Regions from separate parts of the Homo sapiens genome. Here region 1 is linked to region 2. The links come from fine-mapping of genetic effects on gene expression. A gene starts in region 2. The other region holds a variant in brackets. All regions are shown on one strand. Distances are between the middles of the regions. Region 1 overlaps CNTN4 (contactin 4). Region 2 holds the start of CNTN4-AS1 (CNTN4 antisense RNA 1).

Region 1 (5,386 bases), 640 kb before region 2:
TGAGATTTACCCGAAGGAGGTGAAAACTTATGTTTACATAAAGACCTGCACACTGATGTTTCTAGCAGCTTTATTCACAATTGCCAAAACTTGGAAGCAACCAAGATGTCCTTCAGTAGATGAATGGTTAAGTAAACTGTGGTACACCTAGAGAATGGAATAATATTTGGCACTAAAAAGAAATGAGCTATCAAGCCATGAAAAGACATAGAAGAAACTTAAATGTGTATTACTAAGTGAAAAAGCCAATCTGGGAAAAAAGCTATATACTTTATTATTCCAACTATATGACATTCTGGAAAAGGTAGAATGACTATGGGAAGAGTAAAAAGATCCGTGGTTGCCAGGGATTTGGGGTGATGGAGAGATTAATAGAGCACAGAGGATTTTTACGGCAGTGAAACTAATCTATATGATACTATAATGATAGATACAGATACATGTTATTACAAATTTTTCCAAAACCATAGAGTGTAAAACATAAGAGTAAACCCTAATGTAAACTCCGGACTCTGGGTGATAATGATATGTCAATGTGGGTTCACTGATGATAATAAATATACCGCTGGTGAGGTATATTGATAGTTCAGAGAGGCTGTGTGTATAGGAGGGCAGGCATATATGGAAAATCTCTGCACCTTCCCCTCAATTTTGCTGTGAACCTAAAGCTGCCTAGAAAAAATAAAGTCTGTTAAAAAATCACCACAGAGGCAAAATGTGAGATTAGAACAACCTCTTCAAAATAATACACAGAAAGTATTTACAAATGCTAACTAAGACATAGGGTTCAAAACGTAAAACTGCTCACAGCCCAGGTACTAAAATTAGATCAATCTAATCATTAGATACTCAATCATTAGATACAATAGAATTTGCCCCAGTAGCAAATGTTTACTTTTGATTCTGTTATACACTACTTAACATGGTCCAGTGTCAGCATAAGGCTGTAATTTGGCGATTGCATTTCTTTATTTAATAACTGCTGATAAAGCTGAAATAAAGAATCAGTAAAAAGGTTTCACTTTTGTAAAGCACATCCAGGGTTTATAGGAAAGGAAATATTTCAGCATTTCTGATATATAAAAGAACAAAGGTGTTATATTAAGAAAAAATAATACATAAAACAATATCAGGGACATTGAATTGATGAAAGTAATCAGTAACATTTTAAATCCATGTTGGCTTGCATTGTGAAAGAAGGGAATAATTTACAGTTCATGATATTTGTATTTAGATGTTTGTATTTTTATTGTGTTTAGAGAATCCCAGGAAAGGAAAGAATCCTACAACCCGTAGGATGAAAAAAGCTTTGGATCTCATGCCAGGACAAGGGCACTGATGCCCAAAAAGATAAAGGCCTTCCTCAGAATCTTATGGGAAAAGTCAAATTATTTAAAATTAGCTCCAGGGTTCATGAGTAAGATTAATTGGTAGAAGTTAAATGGCTATATGGTTCACGTTTAAAAATAATTTCTAAAAATTGGATACCCCTTATGAGAGAAAATATAAGTGGCTTTGAGTAATAGTTTATATTCCAATTATTGCAAGTAATCAATCATATACCAGGTAATTTCCTGACATGAGTTACATACCAAAAATTATATTGGATGAAAAGCTCGAATGAATATAGGTAACATTCCACTCTAATGTAGCTTTCTGTATCTTAGAACATTCAACTTTATTAAGACTTTATAGTTTTTAGGAATAGAGTTAATAAAGAACTTGGAATCTTCTATCAAGAAATAAAGAGGTGGGAGTGGGGAGATCTACCTCTGGAGATTCTCATGTGTTCAGGATATATTCAACGTTTATTTGTTCCTAGGCAGGGTACAGAATAAACTGATACCCGTAAGTCCATTCTAGCCCAATGTTTCAAAAAATGCTGGCATTTTAGTGAAATGTAATATGGATAACATAAGGTAACATTGCGAATAGTGAAGTCTGCAACTAAAAGATAAAGCATTTAAATGTCAAATAGCATTGTGTAAATAAATCTAAAATGAAATTTTCAACCAGTTTTTAAAACTTACTTCCACTAACAAACATAACATAGTGTCATGCAGAAGATGATGAGGAAGCAAAGAATATGTTAAGGAAACCTGTAGAAAACCAAATGCCTTCTTGTATTAAATGAGTTTACCATGTCTTTCAAGGAATAATCATGTTTATACAAATGTGTGTGGTTTCCAGGACCCATTTTTCTTTTCCTTCCCTATACATGCAAACATATACAAATATATCAGCTCACATACTTATTTCCCTGTGGTTTCAGACTATTAAATGTTTATAATTACTCTGCTTGATGACTGTAATTTTTAGTTACAGATCGAATTGTCCCAGGTGTGGATGCTGCCAAAAGCCACGGTCATTGGCAACATGACATCTGGAAGACAGTCTGGCATGTAGAGTCAGGGAATTTGCTAGAAGTTGTTCCTCATACAGTGCAATAGTACAAGCAAGCATTGTGACTCCCTGCAGCTGGTGCTGTCAGTGCCCTATCCATATGCCTCAGACCTTTAATTGTGTTTCTGAGGAATGCTTCTAACTCCTAGTATCTGCAGGTTTGTTCCTCAGCACTTTTTCCAAAAACTGTGGGAAATTGCACTGCTTATATGCACAAGTGAGCTTCATATAAGGAGAAAGAAAACCCTCTAGGAATAGTTCTTAATTAATGACTCTCAAGAGGTGCTGTATAAATACCAACTTCTCTCACCTCTCTGGTGGGATAACTCTGTGAGGTGTGCTTTATGTCATGTCAGAGTTTCTCTGCAGGATTGCCTGCTATATTCACTGCTTGAATAGAAAATTCTTTTTTTTTTTTCCTTTGAGACAGAGTCTCACTCTGTCCCCCAGGCTGGAGTCCAGTGGCACAATCTCGGGTCACTGCAACCTCTGCCTCCCAGGTTCAAGCAATTCTTGGGCCTCAGTCTACCGAGTAGCTGGGACTACAGACATGCACTACCATGCCCACCTATTTTTTGTATTTTTAGTAGAGACACGGATTCACCATGTTGGCCAGACTGGTCTTGAACTCCTGGCCTCAAGTAATCTGCCTGCCTCTGCCTCCCAAAGTGCATTGCAGCTGTGGGCCACCGCGCCTGGCCAAATGTTCTTTACTGGACGCCTTCAATCCCCTTGTCATTTCCTCATTTTCTTTCTGGCCTGCACTTCTT[A/C]AACTAGTTACACTGTAATACTTGTTTTAGAGTCTGCTTCTGTGATTAACGTTTCTGATCAGTAAAATGGCATAGCACTGCTTACCTCAAGAGATGGCCGTATTTTGTCAGAGAAAGAATGTACTTCACGTTTTGCCTAATAAAGTAAACGTTCAGGACCCAGCAGTTGCATTTTAAATGATCCCAGTGTTTGCCCTGTTTTTGAAGTACACATGTGCTTCTGGGAAAACTCAAACTAAGACACACCCCACACCCAACTGGCAAACACATGCCCTGTTGAAAGAGTCTGCAGAAGAGTCCTTGCTTCAGGTACATTTTTCACATTCCAGTCCCAGTTTAGCCCTCCCCCATCACCTTAATGACCACCATTGCATAACAAGCAATGCCTTCTTGTGAGGCATTAGAGGTGACTAGGAGTGAGCTTTAGGGTGGGTACCCTTCAGGGGGTTTCTTTTTTTTTTTTTTTCCTTGACTAGGAGTCTGGCTCTGTTGCCCAGGCTGGAGTGCAGTGGCGTGATCTCAGCTCAGTGCAACCTCTACTCACGGGTTCAAGCAATTTTCCTGCCTCAGCCTCCCGAGTAGCTGGGATTATAGGCACTTGCCACCATGCCCAGCTAATTTTTGTATTTTTAGTAGAGACATGGTTTCACCATGTTGGCCAGGCTGATCTCAAACTCCTGACTTCAAGTGATCTGCCCACCTTGGTCTTCCAAAGAGCTGGGATTACAGATGTTAGCCACCGCTCCCAGCCCCAGCCTTCATATTGTTTATCTTGATTTCTTTTTTCTTCTCTGTTGTAGTGGATAGCACCAGACAATCAGTAGTTGAAGCCCTTTTCACATCTTCACTGGGCATTCTATTAAATGACATATGTGTTCTCCCCAAACTCTAACATCTGTTCATTGAAAATAGGGCAAACACCAAGACCATTTGTAATACAATTGCTGACTATTGAATATTTACTTTGTTAGAAAAAATGCTAAGTACTTTACAATATTTCTCTGCAATAAAACTCATCTTTTGAGCTAACAATGCTATTCTCATTCTACTAAGGAGAAACTTTAGTCACAGAGAGATTAAATAATTTGCTCAACAACACACAAGGAAGTAAGAGTCTGGGAGAGAATTTGTACTTTTCCCTTCCTTTTAGATGTCATTCATAAAAAAAAAAAATTAGTGTACCTGATTTTGTACTCCTAGCCACTATTTAATCCTGCCTCTGTAATTAGCTTTTATGGATAAGTTTATCTTTCCGTACTCAGAAAATAAAATAGTAAAATAAAAAGGCAGCACAAGGTGTCACTAAGTGGCTTTCACCAGAGGTGAAGTTGTACAGAATTAGAGAGGGGTTTTAACCACATCTAGAGCACTGCCCATAGAGGAATGCAGACCAATTTCTGAAGTCAATTTGTGTTATCCCCTGCTCCTTAACCTGGGTTCCAATACCAGTTACATTTAAGGAACTCTCCTTCCCCCTCTTTCCAGACATTTCCATGGTAGAAACACAGTAGTAGTTCAGGAGTTAGGAGACCTGGGCTTTAGAGCTTTTTATAAAATGGGATGTCTGAATTTGATAGTGTGCAATGTTCCTTCCAACTCCAAACAGATGTTGTCATTTTCACAGCCTCTAGAAGCCACAGGTACCTTCTCAATTAGAAGTTCTAAATGATTTGTAATAGTGAGCACTATTTGGATTCCTGACAGCCTATATCAGGAAAATAAGCAAAGTTTTGGATCAAGTGCTTATATCTAAAGCCATTGCTTTATAAGCTGGTCTTCACTGCCAATTCCTTCTTCCCTATAGATTGTTGGTATTTCTGGTCTGGATGGGTTACAAGAATTTATTTTATTGATTTCCTGAATCTCTGTACATCCTTAAAATAATTCAGAATTGGAAAGAAATACATTTAGCTCTTTGTCACATAGTGTAGAGATCTTTTGACATAAAGAGAGAGCTGCTGATATTCTGTTTCCCCTAATGCCTGAGTGTGGCATGGTTTCAAAGGGTTGCTTTATCACATGTAGACATGGAGGGACCATCAGGTAATGAGATATAACATTTCCTGGAAATTAATTAGTGGTGTGTTGTCCAGGAACTAAATTTCTTTTACTCCTGTTTGCCACCTGTCCTGGATGTCTAGTGCCGAATTTGAATTTCCATGCCAAACTGAAAAAGCAGCATTGGCTTTAGTTGCCCTCTTTTTCACATTAAC
Region 2 (5,386 bases):
AAAATGACACCCAGGGAGTTCCCAACCCCAGTGTAAATGATATTTACCAGTGATCTAGCATATGTAATCTTTTTTAAAGGTATTGTTAATAAATATTCTGTCATTTGTAAAGATACTTGTCTTTCGGGAGCATTTTTCCTGCCTGCCTGTCAGGGAATTTGTTAGCTTACCTTTGTGCTAGTTATAATTTGGGATCATAGAGGGACTCAAAAGTCTCTACCCAAATCTAGATGACCCAGAGCTTTTCCTTTGGAATTGACAACCCTGAAGCACCATTTCAAATCCTCTTTGGAAGTAGAGAGGGTCCTAATCCACAAGTAAATGTCCTGAAGATGAGACTTGAATATTTTCTCTTGATTAGCTAAGTCTTTTGTATATTTACTGTAAGTATATCTGTTGTTTCCCTCACCCCCCATTGCTAAAAGGGTAAGTTCTAAGCTTGAGCATTTAAGGCTCTTTTTTTTTTGAGACGGAGTCTCACTCTTGTCACCCAGGCTGGAGTGCAATGTTGCGATCTCGGCTCACTGCAACCTCCGCCTCCCAGGTTCAAGCAATTCTCCTGCCTCAGCCTCCCGAGGCGCCCACCACTACACCGGACTAATTTTTGGATTTTTAGTAGAGACGAGATTTCACCATGTTAGTCAGGCTGGTCTCAAACACCTGACCTCAGGTGATCTGCCCGCCTCGGCCTCCCACAGTGCTGGGATTACAGGCTTGAGCCACCGCACCCGGCCCTTAAGGCCCTTTTTAATCCAAAACGATTTAACTGTGTATCCAGCCACAGTAAGCCCTCCCTGACCCCTGAACACTGCTTGCTTTTGGTCTCACCTCTGTGCCTTTGGTCTTATGGCTGCCCCTTCCTGAAATGCCTTCTCCACCCTTCTCTCCCATTCAGATCCCTGCTGTCCTAGGGTAGCTCCAGCCCCAGTTTGTCTGCAAAGACTTCCCATGCTTCAGTCCTTTATGACATTCTCGCTTGGAAGTAGTTGCATCCCCTATCAATGCTGCTCATTTAGTAATTAATCAGATACTACTTTTGGAAATCTCTTGTACTGTTATCTTGCATTTTAATTTAACTCCTGTATTGTTACTTACTTTTTCTTGTATGTATGGCTTGTCTTCCCAACTAGATTGTAAGCTCCTTGAGGGCAGGGACTTTGGTCTTATCTTCCATGTACTCTCCATAGTGCCTAGCACAGTGCCTTGCAATAAATACTCACTGATTAATTGAATGAAGGGGTCTTTGAAGTAGCATTTTGCATCAGTTGCCTGCCTGTGTGCCACAGCAAACCAACCAGGGAAGACTGTGTCATTACTTTCGTTATGTGCTGAAAAGCGTTAAAAGGCCTGGCTTCTAACTTTGTACCTGGAAGAAGTCTTTGACCAATTGGCTTCATCATCGGGTAAATGAGGTCCTGGATTAGTTGAGTCTAACTGAATTGAAGATGTTTTAGAAAGTGCCCCATGAGCACCTCCACCCAAACTTGTCTCATTTGTTGGCTTTCATGGTTGCCTCAGGTAGGGTCCACTGGCTGTAAGCAAAGAAACGACCCTGGGTAACTTGAGCAAACAAAAAGTAAGGAATTAGAATGACACAGGTTACATCATATGAGCCAAGGAAACACTGAAGGACCAACTCTTGAGGAGAATAAGAACCAGGCCACTCTGTGGGTCCAGACAATGGGAACTTTGGAAAGTCTTTTTGGGGTGCTATTGTGGGGATGAATCAGCTTTGTTTCCAATTTTGACGCCATTATGCTCAATATTCAGATTCCTGGGAAAGTGATCAGTTCCATTTGAGTTCCACAGCCAGAGTACCTTGTACTCACAGGGGAGGGATAGTTAAAGGAAAACTAAGATGCTGTTTTCCAAAGGTAAGAGAAGAAATGCTGGGTTGGTATAAGTAACAGATTTTCTAGGCTTAGCCAGCCAAGGGGACTTTCTTAGGCCCTTAGCCCAAGTAATACACTCGAGTGGAATGACTATATTGCTGCTTGAGATTTTTTTCTGAAGGAGGACCACTAGGAAAATTTGCTTTGCTTGTTTAACCTTTCAAAGTGCTTACTCTTGCCCTCCTTTTTGTGTGTGTAGTCCACTTGTGATTTAACTGTATGAAAGGAAATTCTATTGTGCCAGATATTTGGATTCTCTCAGTGTACCTACTTTCTATGGAGCCCACACATGCTACATACAAAGCAGCACCTTTCCATGGGCACAGAAGACATGGATGATAAGCTTCATTTCTCAGGTAAGCTCTGAATTCTTCCAGCCTGTGAGGTAGAAGGTGCATAGACTTTGATATTAAGAAAGAATGATTGTGTTATTCCCACCATCAAAATTGTGGTTGTTTATATCCAGGAGGCAATGTTAAATCCTGATTAACCTTTACCCAGTCTCTTCCACCACCTTGCCTCACTACAAATATGCGCAAAGAATGTTGAGTTATAAAAAGTATACAAATAGCACATAATTAGCAACAAAAATGTCATGCAGTTTTTAATCTAATGTAATCAACCAACAGGTGATTTTTGTTCACTACATTGGATTATCGATGCTACTGTTCTCCTCCGTTAACACTTATAATCAAGAAGTGACTGTTATTTTCCTGTTGTTACAATTTACAAAATGTTCTGGCTAAAAACGTTATGTGGCCAACCATAGTGCTTTGAAAGGCAAGCCTTTAAAATCAAGGACTTATATTCAATCTGTGGACATACCCCAGATTTTTCCATTACAAAATGCCAGACACTGAGGCCTTACAAAGGCAGCCTAATACAAAGACTAAGGACGTGGATCCTGGAGTTTGACTGCCTGGGGTGCATTGTAATGATTGGCTACTTATTAGGGAGGATAAAGTTTGTAAAGCTCTCCAAACAGTGATGATTTTACCGTCTGTTATTGTTCTTTTTCTCCAGGGACTTTACTAGACCCACAGATGTAGGATGTGGATGCTTCTTATCACCAAAATGAGTGGAACTCAGCTGACACATCCATTATCACCTTTTATTTAAACATGATCACTTCTTAATATAAATTTTAATGTTCGATAATTTTAATCATACAATCAACTAATTCAAACTTAGGCAGTAGGGTTCCCATTCAGATGCCAGGTTTTGCACAAAGCCTCCCTCAGCTTCCCCATCTGAAATTGACCTTGCATTTCTCTGACCTCCAGGGGATGGGGTCTGTACCCACTCATGTCAGTCATCCCTTCGTACCTTATATTTAAATCATTTTTGTTGGTGTCTTCCGCCTTATAGTAGACACACGGCACCTCAGCGTTGGCATCTGGGTGTGGTTCCTCATTGTGCTCCCAGGCACAAGGCCTGTGTCACCTCCATCTCAGACCTAGAGGGAGGAGAATATCTGGCCCCGTTTCCTGTGATTTCCTCAGGCCCCCTGCCAGAGTGTGATTAGTAAATGCAAGTCAGGCTGCCCATTCTGCAAAGAGGCCCCGTTTCCCCTTGTGCTAAATGGGCCATGCGGATTAAATGTTCCAGCTCTGCAACTCACCTGCAAACTACAATACTCAACAGAGATCACAGTTTAAACAAAATTGGCCTCTATCCTTTATCACAAGCAGTTATGGGCCATGGTAGATTAGCAGAGCTCTAGTGATATAGATCACATAGAGAGAAAGCTTTTTTTAAAAAAGGTCAACCATATGATCGATCTGAAAGTCTGGAAATTGGAAGGCTGAGCTACTTAAATATAGATGCAATTACATGTGATATCCCCATTCTCTGTAAACTGGGTTTTTGCCACATATCCTTATTGTTAGGAATAACACGAACTATACCAGGAAATATATATGTCCTAGGACTTTAACAAATAGTAATATCTTTAATTTGTTTTTCTAGTTTTCAAAGTGCTTTTCACACTAATAAGGGGAGGACATAGGTTTTTATTCCTTTTTTATTTATGAAATGGAAGCAAAGAGGTTATATAAGAAGCCCAAAGTAACATAGACAATTAGAAAGTCAGGGCTGGGCATGGTGGCTCACACCTGTAATCCCAGCACTTTGGGAGACTGAGGTGGGGGGATCACAAGGTCAAGAGTTCGAGACCAGCCTGGCCAACATGGTGAAACCCCATTCCTACTAAAAATACAAAAATTAGCTGGGCATGGTGGCACGTGCTTGTAGTCCCAGTTACCCAGGAGGCTGAGGCAGGAGGATTGCTTGAACCTGGGAGGCAGAGGTTGTAGTGAGCTGAGATTGCCCTACTGCACTCTAGCCTGGGCAAGAGAGTGAGACTCTGTCTCAAACAAAAGAAAAAAAAAAAAAGAAGGACTAGAATTTAGAACATAGACTCATTAGTGCATTTCATACACCTAGAAATAAGTACTTAGAGAAAGGACAGGATGGAGTAAGGAACTAGACTCTGAAGTTCAACTAGAGAACATTCTAGGACAAGTAGGTAGGCCAGAGGAAATGGTGAGGTAGAAGGGTGAGATGTCTGAGGTTCAGATGCTGGAGGTGGAGAAGTTCTGAGTGCCGGCCAGGCCCAGGGCACAGCCATCTGGAGGAATGGGATAGGATAGGTGCCTGGAGAGGGTTTTAGTTATTCAGCAAGGGACTACTGGCAGCCCTCTCTGTACCAGGCACTATTCTGGGCATAGAAGAATGATGTGGCATTCAGATGTGTGTGAGGAAGCCAAGGCACCAGTAACAGTATTTTGTCACAATACAGAGAAATGCAATGATAATAATAATAGTAAACAGTGATTATGCTTATAATATGTGCCAGACTCAGTGCAAATCAACCTACCGATTTAGTTACCATTTATTATTCCTATTTTATACACAGAGGATTGAGGTTGACAGGTTCACATTTGTCCCTGATCACACAGTTGATCAGAGAGACCAGGAATTGAAATGCTGGTGGCTTGGGTTTAGGGCCCTACTCCAAAACATTAGATGTCTCTATCTGTAAATAGATGATACATAAACAATAAGGTAGGTAGATAGATAAATAGACAGATAGATACGGTTCCCATATAGCAACAAGAAGGAAAGGCAGTCATGAGCTTCAGTCTGCTCTAAAGTGGCTCAGCTTCTCTGCTTCTCTTTCCTTGACTGCAAATGTTGTTTTTTGCGTGTTCGTTGTCCTTGACTTCAGGTGTCTTAGAGCTGTTTCTTTAAACTCCGGCTACCCTTCAAGATCAGGATTACCCAATAAAATAGGAGAGGAGCTATTAAACTTAGATTTCAGATAAAAAAAAAATTATGCTTCCTTAGTATAAGTATGCCCCATGTGATATTTATTTGAAATTCAACTTTAACTGAGCCTCTTATTTTTATTTGCTAAATCTGGCAACCTGACACCAGGAGGTCTTCATTACTCTCATTGAAGTAATTAATTTGTAATTCAAAATTTCAGGGTC

Evidence for each region. PIP is the estimated chance that this variant, and not a neighbour inherited with it, causes the effect. A credible set is the group of variants that fine-mapping cannot tell apart.
Region 1: its variant is the best candidate, but not a certain one, in a credible set for the expression of CNTN4-AS1 in thyroid (GTEx, PIP 0.51).

Annotation. Positions count from the first base shown.
Region 1 is chr3:2,417,628-2,423,013 of GRCh38, forward strand. All of the region lies in intron 3 of CNTN4 (contactin 4), which reads left to right. Among named protein-coding and RNA genes, the nearest start is that of CNTN4-AS2, 280 kb to the left of the region's middle. RefSeq lists an enhancer at 1,204-1,373. The variant A/C (reference allele first, on the strand shown) is at 3,174.
Region 2 is chr3:3,057,849-3,063,234 of GRCh38, forward strand. It overlaps CNTN4-AS1 (CNTN4 antisense RNA 1), which reads right to left and starts at 3,297. Exons shown (of 4, transcript NR_046554.1): 1 at 3,219-3,297. It overlaps CNTN4 (contactin 4), which reads left to right. Exons shown (of 25, transcript NM_175607.3): 25 at 1-111.